Regions from separate parts of the Homo sapiens genome. Here region 2 is reported to be linked to region 1. Evidence: microRNA targets listed by miRTarBase, many of them from high-throughput screens and not tested one by one. Region 1 holds a microRNA gene; the other region holds the end of a gene's coding sequence.
What was found. Region 1 holds the annotated microRNA hsa-miR-6840-3p (GCCCAGGACUUUGUGCGGGGUG, at 2,953-2,974, opposite strand). A microRNA usually pairs through its seed, bases 2 to 8, with sites in the 3' UTR of a target mRNA and lowers its output. Matches are read on the target gene's strand: a 7mer-m8 pairs with bases 2 to 8, a 7mer-A1 pairs with bases 2 to 7 and ends in A, and an 8mer does both.

Region 1 (7,119 bases):
CCAGAGTCGGCCTTGGTGGGCTTGAGGGGAGCCAGCAGGGTCTGCATATTTCTGAAGTCCCTTAGCTGCAGGTGGGCTCAGAGAAACCCCCAGCTGGGAAGCTTGAGGAGACAGTGCGTTCTGGGCACTTACCTTTCCTTCTCCTCCACCACAGGAGGAGGAGGCACAGCAGTCCCAAAATGACAGTTTTGAGCACAGCGACAGCCAATGCAACCCTGATGGCAGTGTCCAGACTTAGGTGCCATGATTCTGAGTGCCCTTTGCTTTCTGTGACCCTGAGGCCGGCTATGGTGGTTGTGCTGCTGGGCCTCCAGGTGGTGGTGGTTGTGACAGCTGGAAGAGATGAGGAATGAGCAGACCCTCTTCTGGGGGTGTGGGGCGTCTGGATGAAAGGCATGGTGTGCTGCTTTCTAGATTGGGGACATTCAGGATGAGCAAGCTGCTCTCAGAAGCCCAGACATGGAAGGGGTAGCAAGGTGAAATGCTAACAGCTCTCAATCCAGACCACTGGGTTTAAATGTGAAGACATCAGTGGTCACCAAAACCCTCACTGCGGTGGGCAAGGCAGGTGTCAGGGCAGCTGGACTCACCCTGGGTGATGGTGAGTTTGGTCCCCTTGATGGACTGCAACTGCTGCCTCCCTGATCTCCGGGTGTCCAGCTCGACTCGGCAGAAATACACAGACTGGTCCTCCTTCCGCAGGTTTGAGATCCTGAGGAAGCCGCTCTCCTGACCCTCTGTCCAGTTCAGAAAGAGCCGGTTCACATAATCCTTGTGAATGGAAGGCGGCCTTGTGCTGTAGAAGGACTGCCCGTGGAAGTGGCCCCGTCTCCAGGATATTCTCACGTTGGGAACTATGGCTAACTCCCAGGGGTAATAGAAGGAGAAGGGGATTTCCACAGAGCCACCCATGGAGGCTGAGAGGTGTTTTGGTTGAGTGACCCCATAAAGGTAGCTTGGACCAGATCCTGTGGAGCCACCTAGAGGAAGGAGGGAGTGAGTGGGGGAGAGACCTTGAAACCACCTCAGGACACAAAGAGGGTGACCCCAGACCCTCCCACACCTTCACCCACAGGCAGTCGTGTGACAGGTGGCTGGACTGACCTCTGGCCTGGGTCTCCCACTCTTCAGGCATGGGGGAGGGTGGAGGGGGAAGAGATGGCGGCACCCACCCCTATGGGACCCGCCCTTGTTTGCTGGAGGTGGGAGCCTGGCCCCTGCCCCAGATGTTCTGCCTTTGTCTTGGGTTGGCCCCTCCTGTGGTTTGGGCAGAGACCATACCTGGGCGGTCCTGGGTACTCACCAGGCTGCAGAAATGCTGGCGGCTGCAGCAGGAGCAGCAGGGGCAGCAGCAGGGGCCGACCCATGGCCTTGTTCTTCTCCAGGGGACGGGGAGACCAGCAGAGCTGTCCAGGCAGGAGAGGGGCCCTGTGGAGGGGCTGCCTGAGGGCTGAGGTGAGTGGGGAGAGCCAGGGTGAGGCTCCCCAGAGGGCTGTGGGGGCCGGGGACCTTCCCCAAACCAGTACACCTCCAGGGTGACCAGCACTTCCTTTATCCATCTGGCTTCTTATTGCAAAAGGGCCTTAGGTGCCTTTTTATCCCTTGCCTAATTGCTCCGGCCAGGACTTCAAATCCTTTTTTTTTTTTTTTTTTTAGTAGAGATGGGGTTTTGCCATGTTGGCCAGGGTGGTCTCACACTCATAGGCTCAAGTAATCTGCCCGCCTCAGCCTCCAAAAGTGCTGGGATTACAGGCGTGAGCCACTGTGCCCGGCCTGACTTCAAATCCTGTGTTGAATAGAAGTAGTGAGAGCGGGCATCCTTCTCTTGTTCCTGATCTTGGAGGCAAAGATTTCAGTCTTTCATCTAAAATGACTGAAAGACTTTCAGCCATGGGCCTTGCATGACTGGCCTTTATTTTGTTGCAGTACATTCCTTCTCTTCCTGGTTTGTGGAGTGTTTTACCAGGAAAGGGTGTTCAGGCTGGGCACAGTGGCTCAAGTCACACAAAAGTGTCAAGTCAGCCCTGCCCAAGGGCCCCAGTGCCCATCTTCCTGCTGAGGGGCTGGGCCTCACCTTGGCTGGCTGGGCCCCTCCCACCTGGATCCCTGCAGACCCCACCGCACTCAGCCTCACTTCTCATCCCTTTCTCTGTCCAAGGCCAGCGCAGGCTCTTTCAGGGAGAGGAAAGGCGGGCCTGAGTCTGTGCTCTGCTGCACCCCAGATTCAGTCCTCAGAGAGGAGAAGGAGGAAGCCAGTGGAGGTCACAGGCGCTCAGCCCCCAGCCCAAGCACCAGAGCCCCCAGCTTGTCCTCTGTCCCTCTCCCTCCCTGGCAGGGGCTCCCATGCAGTCCCCAGGCACCACCACAGCCCAGCTGGCCTCTTCCCACCCCAGGCCTGCTCCCTTGGTGCAGGGACCACAGTCTTGCTCAAGGGGTGAGGGGGCTGACGGTCCCCTACACAGAGACTGGTCCCTCTCGAGGCCACCCCTTGACCCCCAGACATGAGACTGGATCTGCAGGGTCCCCTCTGACCTCCCTGCCCTACACAGGAGGGGACAGAGCTTGGAGAAGCCCTGTCCCAGGCCACATGACTTGCAGGGCAGTCCCAGGACTGGAGCCCCCTCTACCTGGATCTCTGGGCCTCAACTTCTGAGTTGCAGGAACTCAGGCATAGGGGAGCCCCAGGAGGTTGTTCCCTCATACAGCCCCTCAGGTCATTCCCTCCACACACCTGAGCCTATGGCTGAACCAGGAAGGTTCCTTGGTGCCAGGGCAGCTGGACTCACCCTGGGTGATGGTGAGGTGGGTCCCCTTGATGGACTGCCACGACAGCCTCCCTGATCTGTATGTCCAGCTGGACTTGGCAGAAGTACACAGACTGGTCCTCCTTCCGCAGGTTCGAGATCCTGAGGAAGCCTCCCTGAGGAAGTGAAGGCTCAGAGCAACAGTGGGCACCCCGCACAAAGTCCTGGGCCCGTCTCTAACAGGGGATCTGCAGGTCTTTGCCCGGGGGTGGTCACTGGAGCTTTGGTGACCCACAGGGCTCCCTCCATAGGAGGCTCTGCCCATCCTCTCCAGAGTAAGGTGGCATCAGCTGAGGGGCCGTGGGGACAGGAAGGCAGGATTTCACCAGAGGAAGTGATAACAATCTTCTTGAGACAGAAGCAGGCAGGGACAGGCCTCCCTTCTCTTGTCAGTCTCTTCCCTGGTCCCAGTAGGCTCCTCTGTGCTTCCCAGGGCCAGTCAGGCCGATCCACCCTCCTTCCCTTCACAGGTCTGAGGAAACAGGCTCCCCATGCTCAGGAAACCCCTCCGTCTGAGCCAGGCCCTATACACCTCATTCTCCTTGTTCAACCCACAGGGAAACTGAGGCACCGGGGCTTTGGACTGAACTGGTCCCACCTGCAAAGGTGGGCCGAAAAGAGGACAAGGGACCCCCTGGCTGTTTGGGCAAGGCCTCAAGAGGGTGGCCCACCCTGCCTGAGGACTTTTTGTTTTTTTTTTTTGAGATGGATTCTCGCTGTGTTGCCCAGGCTGGAGTGCAATGGTGTGATCTTGGCTCACGGTAACCTCTGCTTCCTGGGTTCAAGTAATTCTCCTGCCTCAGCCTTCCAAGTAGCTGGGAATTACAGGTGTGTGCCACCACACCCAGCTAATTTTTATATTTTTAGTAGAGACAGGGTTTCACCATGTTGGCCAGGCTGGTCTCAAACTCCTGGCCTCAAGTGATCTGCCCACCTCAGCCTCCCAAAGTGCTGGGATTATAGGCATGGGATACAACACCCAGCCACTGAGGACTGACTCTTCGTTCCATTCCTGCCTTGCCCGTGGCCCATGGGACCCAGCTAGAAGGTCACCTGCTTACCAGGCTGCCCAAGGAGGGGGCCACATAGAACTTTTAGCCAACAGCCTCTGGGTAGCTCTGGAGGGTACATACTCCCCAGGGGCCTCAGGCCCGGTACCGCCACGTGCATTCTCCTTAGATGCAAGGTGCGTGTTTATGTCACTTTCCGGGCTCTGGACCCAGCTGAACCCCCATGGGAGATTCCTTTTGTGTCAGGATTTCTGCTCTGGAATGGTGTGAGGCCTCCCGGATGGTTCATCCTCCCTCCCCCAACAGCAGTGACAGGGCCTGGGGCTAAGCCTGGGGCTGTGGCTCTCTCTCAGAGGGGGGTTTTGGGAGGCACCGGCCCTGGAGGAGGGCATGATTCCAACATGGGCAGAGTCTAAATCCAGCCCGTTAGCCCAGCAGGTGGCCATGGGAGAGGCATGGGATGCAGTGTTCAGCAGAGGCAGGGAGGGGGCCAGGACCCTGCCCATTTTGAGAACTGCTGCTTGTATGTCCCCACCTTCCCCCAACAACTATCCTCCTTTCCTCACCAGCCACGTCTATGCCTGCCCCAGCCCCTTGCCCCTCCTTGGCACCCACCTTGTTCTTGCTTTCCCCTTGAGATCAGGAATGAGGCACAGATGTCTGCTCTCACTGCCTCCCTTCACGGTACTGGAGTCCTAGCCAGCGCGCTATGCCTGAAGGGAAATACAAGTGCTCTGTGTCTTCTTCAATTCTGTATTGATCTATTTGGCCTCCACCCATCACAGGGCCCATATTATCTATATTTCCTGCATTCTTGGCCTCTTTTTAGTGGGGGACATGGTCTCGCTCTGCCTGTAGGTGGGACTATAGGCACGCACCACAGTTCTCCCCTAATTTTCTTTTTTGCAGAGACGTGGTGTCACTGTTACCCAGGCTGGCCTCAATCTCCCAGGCTCAAGGCATCCTCTCAGTGTGCTGGGATTACACATATGAGCCACAGGGCTGAGCCCCTTGTACATTGCCAATGCTCTGGCATCTGGTGCCTCACTGACTAGGGAGAGACTCCCCCTCCCAGGGGTAGCTGACTGTAAAATTTTTACATCAACTTATTAAATCAGCTGGTCAATTTTGACCCAGAGCCATGCTGAAATTTTGATTAAGAAGCTCCTATTCAGGCGGGGCACCGTGGCTCAAGTCTGTAATCTCAGCACTTTGGGAGGCCAAGGTGGGTGGATCACCTGAGGTCAGGAGTTCGAGACCAGCCCAGCCAAACATGGTGAAACCCGTCTCTACTGAAAAAAAAAAAAAAAATACAAAAATTAGCGGACACGATGGTGCACATCCGTAGTCCCAGCTACTCGGGAGGCTGACGCAGGAGAATCACTAGAACCCGGGAGGTGGAGGTTGAAGTAAGCCAAGATCGTGCCAATGCACTCCAGCCTGGGTGACAGAGCAAGGCTCTGAAATCCAGCCAGATTTCAGGCAAGTCCTCCTACTTTCCAGCCCTGCCTGATGCCAGCTGTGGAAGGAGGGCATCAGGACTCTAGCCCAGGCCACAGCAGGGAGCCCGGCAGAGGGACGCCAGGTCAAATCACAGGGACTTTTCTCAGGCTGAAGCCCCAGGAACCCTTGCTGCTGTCCTAGGACATGGTGGGATTGCAGCAGGGACCATCCCGCTGGGATCCCCCAATTCTGTCTAGGAAGCCACAGGTGTCCCTCAGGAAGCTCCCCCAACCCCCCGCCACCCCAAGAAGCCAGGACAGATCTCTAAGACTGGGACACTGCCCTCTCCCTGGGCCAAACCCAGCCCTGCAAGGAGGCCCCAACCCACTCTGGTTCTCACCTGGCTTCTGCCTCCCAGGGGTGGAGACTTCCTCCCCAATCTCTTCACCCCCAAAGAAGCACAGCCAAGGCCCATGTCAGAGGAACTGTGTTGCTGACTTAGTCACAGCAGGAAACGACTGGAATGGGGTACTGTTGCTCACACACTCACACCTGTGCCCACACACACCCACACATGCACACACACAGACCACATCTGCAGCAGGTGGGCCTGGCCAGGCACCTGTGGGACACTTATTAGAGGCCCAAGAATAACGTAAGGGGGTGGCACCCAGGAGGCCTGGGAAGGGGAAAGCCCAGTGGCCTCATGGTCTCTCTCATTGAACTCCTAAGGGTCCCTCCATGGCCCTGGGCCCCAAGGGTCAGGGAAAAGAGTGAGGCCAGGACCAGTGCAGGGAGGCCTCTGCCCAGCCTAAGCGTAGAGTCCATTCTCAACAGAGACAAAGCTGCCATGTGCAGGGATGGATGTGGAGGCCCAGGCAGCAGGGCCCTGGGGCCAGTGTGCGGTGTGGGTGGGGAGTGATGCCCACCAGGACGGCCCCCTGTCGGGGGTGAGCTGTGTCCAAAGTAGCTGGGCAGCAGCTGGTGTTGATAGTGGCATAAGGGACGTGGAGAGCAGCCTGGGAGGCCTGGCTGGGTGCCTGCGCGGGGGAAGGAGGATCAAGTGAGTCTGTACAGCTTGGGCCCAGCCCTGGCCCCCCCTACCCCTGCCACCTCATCCCCAAAGCAGCCCCCCTCCTCACCCATGCTCGTGCTCTCAGTGCCTAGGAGCTGGTGTGGGATGGCTGGAGCCTAGGGGCAGGGCTGGGAGAGAGCAAGGATGGTCAGAGCTCTGCACGGCATGTGGCCAGCCCAGTGTCAGGGGGACGTGGACAGGGCCCAGGTCTCACCGGTGCTTCTGTCGGCACAGCAGATGAAGGAGGTAGCCACAGTCAAAGAGAAGGACTCCTGAGACCCCCAAGATCCCGGCCAGGTCTGCCCGCAGAATGGGGGCAGGAGTCGGCGGGACAGAGAGCCCTGGGCACAGAGGCAAGAATCAGATGGATGGCCAGTTCCCGAGCCCCTCCCTGCCCTCCTGGACCCCTCACCCCGGCCCCACCTGGGTCTGAGCTGGGCGGGAGGCTCCCACAGGCCTCCCAGGAGCCCTCAGGGAAGGACGCAAACTTGCAGCAGAAGGTGGTGTTGGCGCAGGGGCTGCTGGCCCCAGAGCCTTCCAGGATGAGAGAGATGCTGCTCTGGGTTTCCCAGCGGGCCTGGCGAGCAGGGGCCCATTGCTGGATGCCAAGTTCCGGGTGCAACACAGCCAGCGTGGTCCCCCCAGCACCATCGGGGCCCCCCCTGCTCACAGTCACCAGGGAGATGGAGCCAGACTCCAGGAACCCACAACGGATGGTGAAGGACGAGAGCTCGGTGGCCTCCATCCGAACTTGTACTCACACCTCCGGGGTCCCTGTGGAACAGCA
Region 2 (7,114 bases), not on the chromosome of region 1:
GAAGCTGAGGCACGAGAATGGCTTGAACCTGGCGGAGGTTACAGTGAGATCATGCCACTGCACTCCAGCCTGGGTGACAGAGCCAGACTCTGTCTCAAAAAAAAAAAAGAAAAGAAAAGAAAGGAAAAAAAACTGTAAGCTATGATGAACCCCTTAGGAAAATGCATTCAATTTTCCATTCATCATGACAGGATTCAAGAATCTCTAGCTTAAGTAGACAAGGTTATAGAATCTCAAGTCATATTTTTTTTCTTCTTTGGTAGGTTTTAGGGTACCTTGCTGAAATGATTTATCCTTTCACCCTTTTATTCTGTAGTTAACTTAAAGGCATTTAGTTCAAACAGCATTGTGGAGTTAAAACCAAATTCATTGAAAGGTTACTTCACTTATATTTTGCCATTTTCTTGCTCTGGAATATCCCAGCTCTGCCATTTTCTGGCCCTATGATTTTGGGTAAAGTATCTCTGTGCCACAGTTTTCCTCTTTGTAAAATGAGGATTTATAATAGTATCTATTCCATAGTATTGTTGTAAGAATTTAATGTAAGGCTAGAGAACATTGCTATATACTTGGTCAGCTGCCAAATGTGAACTATCAGTAACATATCAGATATTATTTTTAGGTAAAGTTTTTTTTTCTCTAAGCAACAAAAAGGGACCCCTGCCCCCAACCGTCTTTTTCTTTCCAAGTTCCCTTTGTGATTCTGTATCTTGTCCTGAGCAGGAGAAGTGCATGGACAAGCCTGGGCCAAAGTTGGACAGTCGGGCTGAGGCCTGTTTTGTGAACTGCGTTGAGCGCTTCATTGATACAAGCCAGTTCATCTTGAATCGACTGGAACAGACCCAGAAATCCAAGCCAGTTTTCTCAGAAAGCCTTTCTGACTGATCTCAGCATTACCTCTTTGGAAAAGGAAGGTAGTTCAAGAAATGAAGAGCTGTTGATGGGATGATTGAAGAAACAGCTATGAGAGGATTGGCTCCCATCTTTTGTTACTCTTGGGACATCCTGTCATCTGAGAATGAACAAAGACCAATTTTTTGTGTGTGAAGCTTAAGGGTCATATGTTTGCTTGTATTTTTTAATGCTAATCTTGTGAAAATAATTGACAGGCGAAAGAAAACTCTATTTAGATGCATATTACTGTACATGGGACTATGCTTTTCTCAAAGCCCCATTAACTGCTTCCTATAATTTTGATAGTGGGACCACATACGTAAAAATCTCTCATTTGTGTGGAGTCATTTCTGATTTCAGGGGAGATCCTTGTGTTTATCAGAAAGGGCAGAAGTAGGGGAAGAATAATTTGGTATCCTTATCTAGTGTTTGATTGTCAATGCTGGAGAAAAATATCTGTAAGAGTGTTTATACAGTACACTTCAGTTATCTTGATCTCCCTTTCCTATATGATGATTTGCTTAAATATCCATATTAAGTAAGTCTCAAGGTAGGGTAGGCAGCCTGAGAGTCTAGAGGCCTTTAGTTATAAAGGAATCTAGCCAGTGAACATAATTCTTATTACTAGACTGCCACAAGGAAGAAATTAACTTACCCTGTATATCAGGGTACAAAAAATTCAGTGATGTGCCTAAATAAGTTATAAAGATTTAGGCCAATCAGAAGCTAACAGCAGTTTCAGGTAGAGGTGCATGCCTAATGTTAGTTAGTGTAGATTCCATTTACTGCATTCTTCTGATCACTGAAATAAAAGCTATATAAGATTCAACTCTGTGATTGAGAAGGCATCCTATTGCAGTTATTATCTGCAACCCGGAGAGATTTAGCATGGGCTGATTCCAAGGTTAAAATGTAGTCAGTCAGTCTGGGTACCTGCTCTGTGTAAGGTACAGCACAGTATTCCAGGGGTTCCTGACCTTTTTGAGAGAAAAGAGAACCTAGAGATGAGATGGGGAGGGAAGCGGTTATGTGCTGGCAGTCAAGTCCGTGAGTATAGTAGAGGTTGTATTGACTGGATTCTCCTCTTATTTCAAATCCTTGTAGACTGGAGTATAGACCTAAAATGGACCTACTTGTTGGGAGCCTCTAGTGCAAATCCATGAAATCTGGGGAAATGAACATCTCTAAAAGCTTCAAGTCCCTGTTTAGATTTTCCCCATAAAGGTGCTAGAAGGACTTTTTTTTTTTTTTTTTTTGAGACGGAGTCTTGCTCTGTCGCCCAGGCTGGAGTGCAGCGGTGGGATCTCGGCTCACTGCAACCTCCACCTCCCGGGTTCAAGTGATTCTCCTGCCTCAGCCTCCTGAGTAGCTGGGATTACAGGCGCACGCCACCATGCCTGGCTAATTTTTGTACTTTTAGTAGAGACGGGGTTTCACCATGTTGGTCAGGCTGGTCTCAAACTCCTGACCTCATGATCTGCCCACCTTGGCCTCCCAAAGTGCTGGGATTACAGGCGTGAGCCACCGCACCCAGCTGGAATTTTTTTTAAATCATTATGAAAACACAGTTAAACATTTAAGTTCATACTCTGTGCCGTTGTTTTTAGTGACAGGATTTCAGCAGTGCACAGAAACAGTCCCTGCCCTTGAGGAGCTATTGGTCTAGTTAGGGGAGGTAGACAATAAACACATAAATATGTCAATGTAATAAGTGCCATGGAGAAACAGCAGAGTAAGGGTGTTAGGGAATATTTATGGAGTGTGATTATTTTATATAAGATGGTTTGAGAAGGCCTCCTTGGGAAGGTGGCAGTCCAACAGAGACCTGGATGAACTAAGCAACCAAACCTTGTGGGTGTTGCCGAGCACGGTGGCTCACGCCTGTAATCCCAGCACTTTGGGAGGCCGAGGCAGGCAGACCACGAGGTCAGAAGATCAAGACCATCCTGGCTAACATGGTGAAACCCCATCTCTGCTAAGAATACAAAAAAAAAAAGAGCTGGGCGTGGTGGCAGGCGCCTATAGTCCCAGCCACTTGGGAGGCTGAGGCAGGAGAATGGTGTGAAACCGGGAGGCAGAGCTTGCAGTGAGCCGAGATTGTGCCACTGCACTCTAGCCTGGGTGACAGAGCAAGACTCCGTCTCAAAACAAACAAACAAACAAAAAAACCCCACAAAACCTTGTGGGTGTCTGAGACAAGAACATTTCAGGCAGGAATAACAGTAAGTCCGAAGGCCCCAAGGTAGGAACTGCATGCATGATGCCGTGGAGAACAGTCAAGAGGTCATTATAGCTGGAGTAAAGTGAGTGAAAGAGAATGGTAAGAAATAAGGTTGGAGAGACCGGGTGCGGTGGGCTCATGCCTGTAATCCCAGCACTTTGGGAGGCCGAGATGGATGGATCACCTGAGGTCAGGAGTTCAAGACCAGCCTGGCCAACATGGTGAAACCCTGTCTCTGCAAAAAATACAAAAATTAGCCAGGTGTGGTGGCAGGTGCCTGTAATCCCAGCTACTTGGGAAGCTGAGGCAGGAGAACCACTTGAACCCAGGAGGCAGAGATTGCAGTGAGCCGCTCCAGCCTGGGTGAGAGAGTGAGACTCCATCTCAAAAAAAAAAAAAAAAGAAATAAGGTTGGAGAAAAACGCATGCAATGGATCAGGGTGACGGGTGTGTGTGCACTGATTATGTGGGGCCTTGTAGGCCATGGCAAGGACTTTGGGCTTTTACTAAGCAAGGTGGGGAGCCATTTGAGGGATTTTAACAGATGAATGATGTAACATAACTTAATTTTAGGAGGGTCTGGCTGCTCTTTGGGCAACATCACATGGTGAAGAAGTTGTAACAGTAGCAGTAGTAGTAAGAATAATGGCATTTTGAAATCCAGGAAAATGAGACTTTAAAATGCATATACCTTGTAACTATATGTCCCCGTTGACTTTTTTTTCCCTACAAAATTTAATGTGAGGCCAGGCACGGTGGCTCACATCTATAATCTCAGTACTTTGGGAGGCTGAAGTGGGAGGATTGCTTGAGCCCAGGAGTTTGAGACCAGCCTAGGCAACATGCCAAGACCCCATCTCTACAAAAAATACAAAAATTAGCTGAGCATGGTGGCACATACCTGTAGTCCCAGATACATGGGAGGCTGAGGCGAGAGGATCACCTGAGCCTGTGGAGGTCGAGGCTGCAGTGACCCATGATCACGCTACTGCACTCCAGCCTGGGTGACAGTGAGACCTTGCCTCAAAAATAAAAAGAAAATGTGTTCTTAAAACCTCAAGTCATAGGAACGGTTCTTTAGTCTTTTCCTTATTATTATATTTATTATGTTATTTATTACTATATTATTTAGTTTTTTTTTTTTTGAGACAGAGTCCCACTCTGTCTCCAAGCCAGCGGCACGATCTCGGCTCACTGCAATCTCTGCCTCCTGGGTTCAAGCGATTCTTCTGCCTTAGCCTCCCGAGTAGCTGGGATTACAGGCACACACCACCACACCCAGCTAATTTTTATATTTTTAGTAGAGACGGGGTTTCACCATGTTGGCCAGGATGGTCTTGATCTCCTGACCTCGTGATCCACCTGCCTCGGCCTCCCAAAGTGCTGGGATTATAGGCGTGAGCCACTGCGCCCCACCTTATTTAGTATTAAAGTGTTCTCATTACTTGTACACACAAATTTAAATGTCTTAGCTTTACAGTATTGCTTGCTCAGCGAATATATGTCATGAGAAAGGTCTGTCAGATTCATACAGTAAACTTGAGCACCAATTATGTGTTTTGACACTACTGGGCACAAAGACAATGGAAAAGAAAAGGTGTAACAAATCCCCTGTCTGAGATTAATAAGCCCCAAGGCAACAATTTGGGCTTTTGTTTGTTTTGTCAATCTGAGAAATGCAGTTTCAGAACTTTGATAGGTGGTACTGTTAGCCCTGATGACATTCAAAGTCCTCATTTCAAATATTCAAGGTAGAAAATTCAAAACTCAGTTGTAAAACAAAAGAATTGGATTAGCAGACCCTTTTCATGAAATGAAATCTTACTTAGAAGCCTGTTATGTAAAGCAGAAAAGCCAAGCTACTCTGGTGGTTAGTATCTGGAAGCCTTCCTACTGTTGTGTTGTCACCCACCTGCACTGCCAGTGATGCCTAAGGCTCATCTTCAAGCTTCCAGGTTTTACCAAGCACACTCTGAAAGTGAGTCTATGTATTAGGGATAACAGAAGGAAATCAAGCAAAAACTTGCTCTTTATTTACAATAAACTCCATAAGGAATTTGAATTCTAAAGTTAACAAATCAATGAACTCCATGTAAAATAGTCTTTACATGGAATAATGGAAAACAATCGATGGTCCTTTTCTTAAAAACCAATTTTTCCCCATTGTAATACCTTTTTTTTTTTTTAAGATGAGATCTCGCTCTGTTTCCAAGGCTGGAGTGCAGTCATTTCCATGTAGTATGTACTTTTCCCGAGTACTGCCATGACTCACTTGCCATTTTCAAGGAATAGCAGCCCACTGACTCAACACCCTCACAGACACACCCAGGATCAATACTTTGTATCCTTCAATCCAATCAGGTTGACACTCATTATTAACCATCACAAACTTCTTTATAAATTGTTATGGAATGAGCTCCAATACATATTGTTAAAGTTAAAAAGCAAGATTAAAGACTACCATTTGTGTAAAAAGGGGGGGGGATTAAAATATATGTATGCATATTTGCTTGAATAAGCATTAATTAACTCTTGAAGGATATTGTTAATATTGATTGCCTCTGGGGAAAAGAACTGGGTGGTTGGGGAGTAGGGGTGGGAGACTTTTTGCCATTTATCTTTTCTTTATGCCTTTTGAGTTTTGAATCATGTGAATGAATTACCTATTCAGAAAAATACATATTATTTTAAAAAATAACAAAATTTCTCTCCATTTCAGCACTATAAACTCTGTACTAAAAAGTGGGGATGTGTGATAGAAACCACTTTTAGGAATAAAAAACTTATATTTCAACTACAGTACTTTCAGATATCCCCTAGTCTCAAATAGATTCTTTTTTCTTTTTTTAACTTTTGTAAATTATTTTATTTCTTCCATGATGATTTAAATGGACTTTTTTTCTTTTTTTTTTTTTGAGACGGAGTTTTGCTCTTGTTGCCCAGGCTGGAGTGCAATGGCGTGATCTTGGCTCACTGCAACCTCTGTCTCCCGGGTTCATGCGATTCTCCTGCCTCAGCCTCCCGAGTAACTGGGATTACAGGCATGAGCCACCATGCCTGGCCTGACTATCTTCAAACAAGTACAAATATTTCATAAATAATATCTGGCCATTTCTAGCCAATTGAGTAATTTGTTGCACAATAAGCCACCTCACATCTTTCAGCAAGAAATACATTAAATTTGAATAATAAAGACATTACACAATGAATTAGGACACTTTTAAAATTTGTTTTAATTTTTATTAGGGGGAGGGGACAGCACACTTCTACTTAATGAAGAGAAACATTTTTACAGTCCAGAGGTCTTTTATGTTTTTGCACCTATTATGCTTGAATTCATAGGGGATAGGTTCCAGCAGCCCAGACTCCTTTCCATTGGTTCTCACAAAGTACACTTCTCTGGGTGGAGCAGCCTGGCACTTGAGTTGAACCCAGGTACCTCTCTTTTTGGCTTCCTTTTTCTGATCATTTTCCCTCATGCGTTTCAGGAAGCTATCTTGGCTCTTAGAGTGCTTAATGTACTCAATCCGCACATTAATTCTCTTGGCAAGAATCTTGCCCTTAGCTTCTTTGTTTACAACAATGCCAACAGCATGCTGGTTAACAGTGTAGACACAGTTTTGCCATGGTAACACTTATGGGACATTCCTTTTTGAATAGTACACATTCCCTCGATGTCTCTATATGTGTGTGTATATATATATTTTTTCTCTATATATAGAATATATATATAAATAGATATAGAAATATATATAGTCCATAATGAACACATATTTTTCTCTCTATATATATAGAAAAGATATATATATATATATATATATTTTTTTTTTTTGAGACAGAGTCTCACTCTGTTGTCCAGGCTGGAGTGCAGTAGTGAGATCTCGGCTCACTGCAAATTCCACCTCCCAGGTTCCAGTGATTCTCCTGCCTCAGCCTCCTGAGTAGCTGGGACTACAGGCACGCACCACCACGCCCGGCTAATAATATCGTCTTTCTTAT

Region 2: the mRNA of TIMM8A is a reported target of hsa-miR-6840-3p. The part of its 3' UTR that is shown has no 7-base or 8-base seed match.

What each region holds. Positions count from the first base shown.
Region 1 is chr7:100,352,551-100,359,669 of GRCh38, reverse strand. It overlaps MIR6840 (microRNA 6840), which reads right to left and starts at 3,019; the gene lies at 2,949-3,019. It overlaps PILRB (paired immunoglobin like type 2 receptor beta), which reads right to left and starts at 1,553. Exons shown (of 4, transcript NM_178238.4): 1 at 1,304-1,553; 2 at 591-980; 3 at 133-333. The coding sequence starts at 1,367. STAG3L5P-PVRIG2P-PILRB (STAG3L5P-PVRIG2P-PILRB readthrough) reads right to left here. Exons shown (of 17, transcript NR_036570.1): 8 at 6,756-7,106; 9 at 6,547-6,673; 10 at 6,400-6,460; 11 at 6,187-6,297; 12 at 4,430-4,527; 13 at 2,787-2,920; 14 at 1,304-1,450; 15 at 591-771; 16 at 133-333. It also overlaps the pseudogene PVRIG2P.
Region 2 is chrX:101,340,270-101,347,383 of GRCh38, reverse strand. It overlaps TIMM8A (translocase of inner mitochondrial membrane 8A), which reads left to right. Exons shown (of 2, transcript NM_004085.4): 2 at 724-1,723. The coding sequence ends at 885. It also overlaps the pseudogene RPL21P132. Among named protein-coding and RNA genes, the nearest start is that of TIMM8A, 4.9 kb to the left of the region's middle.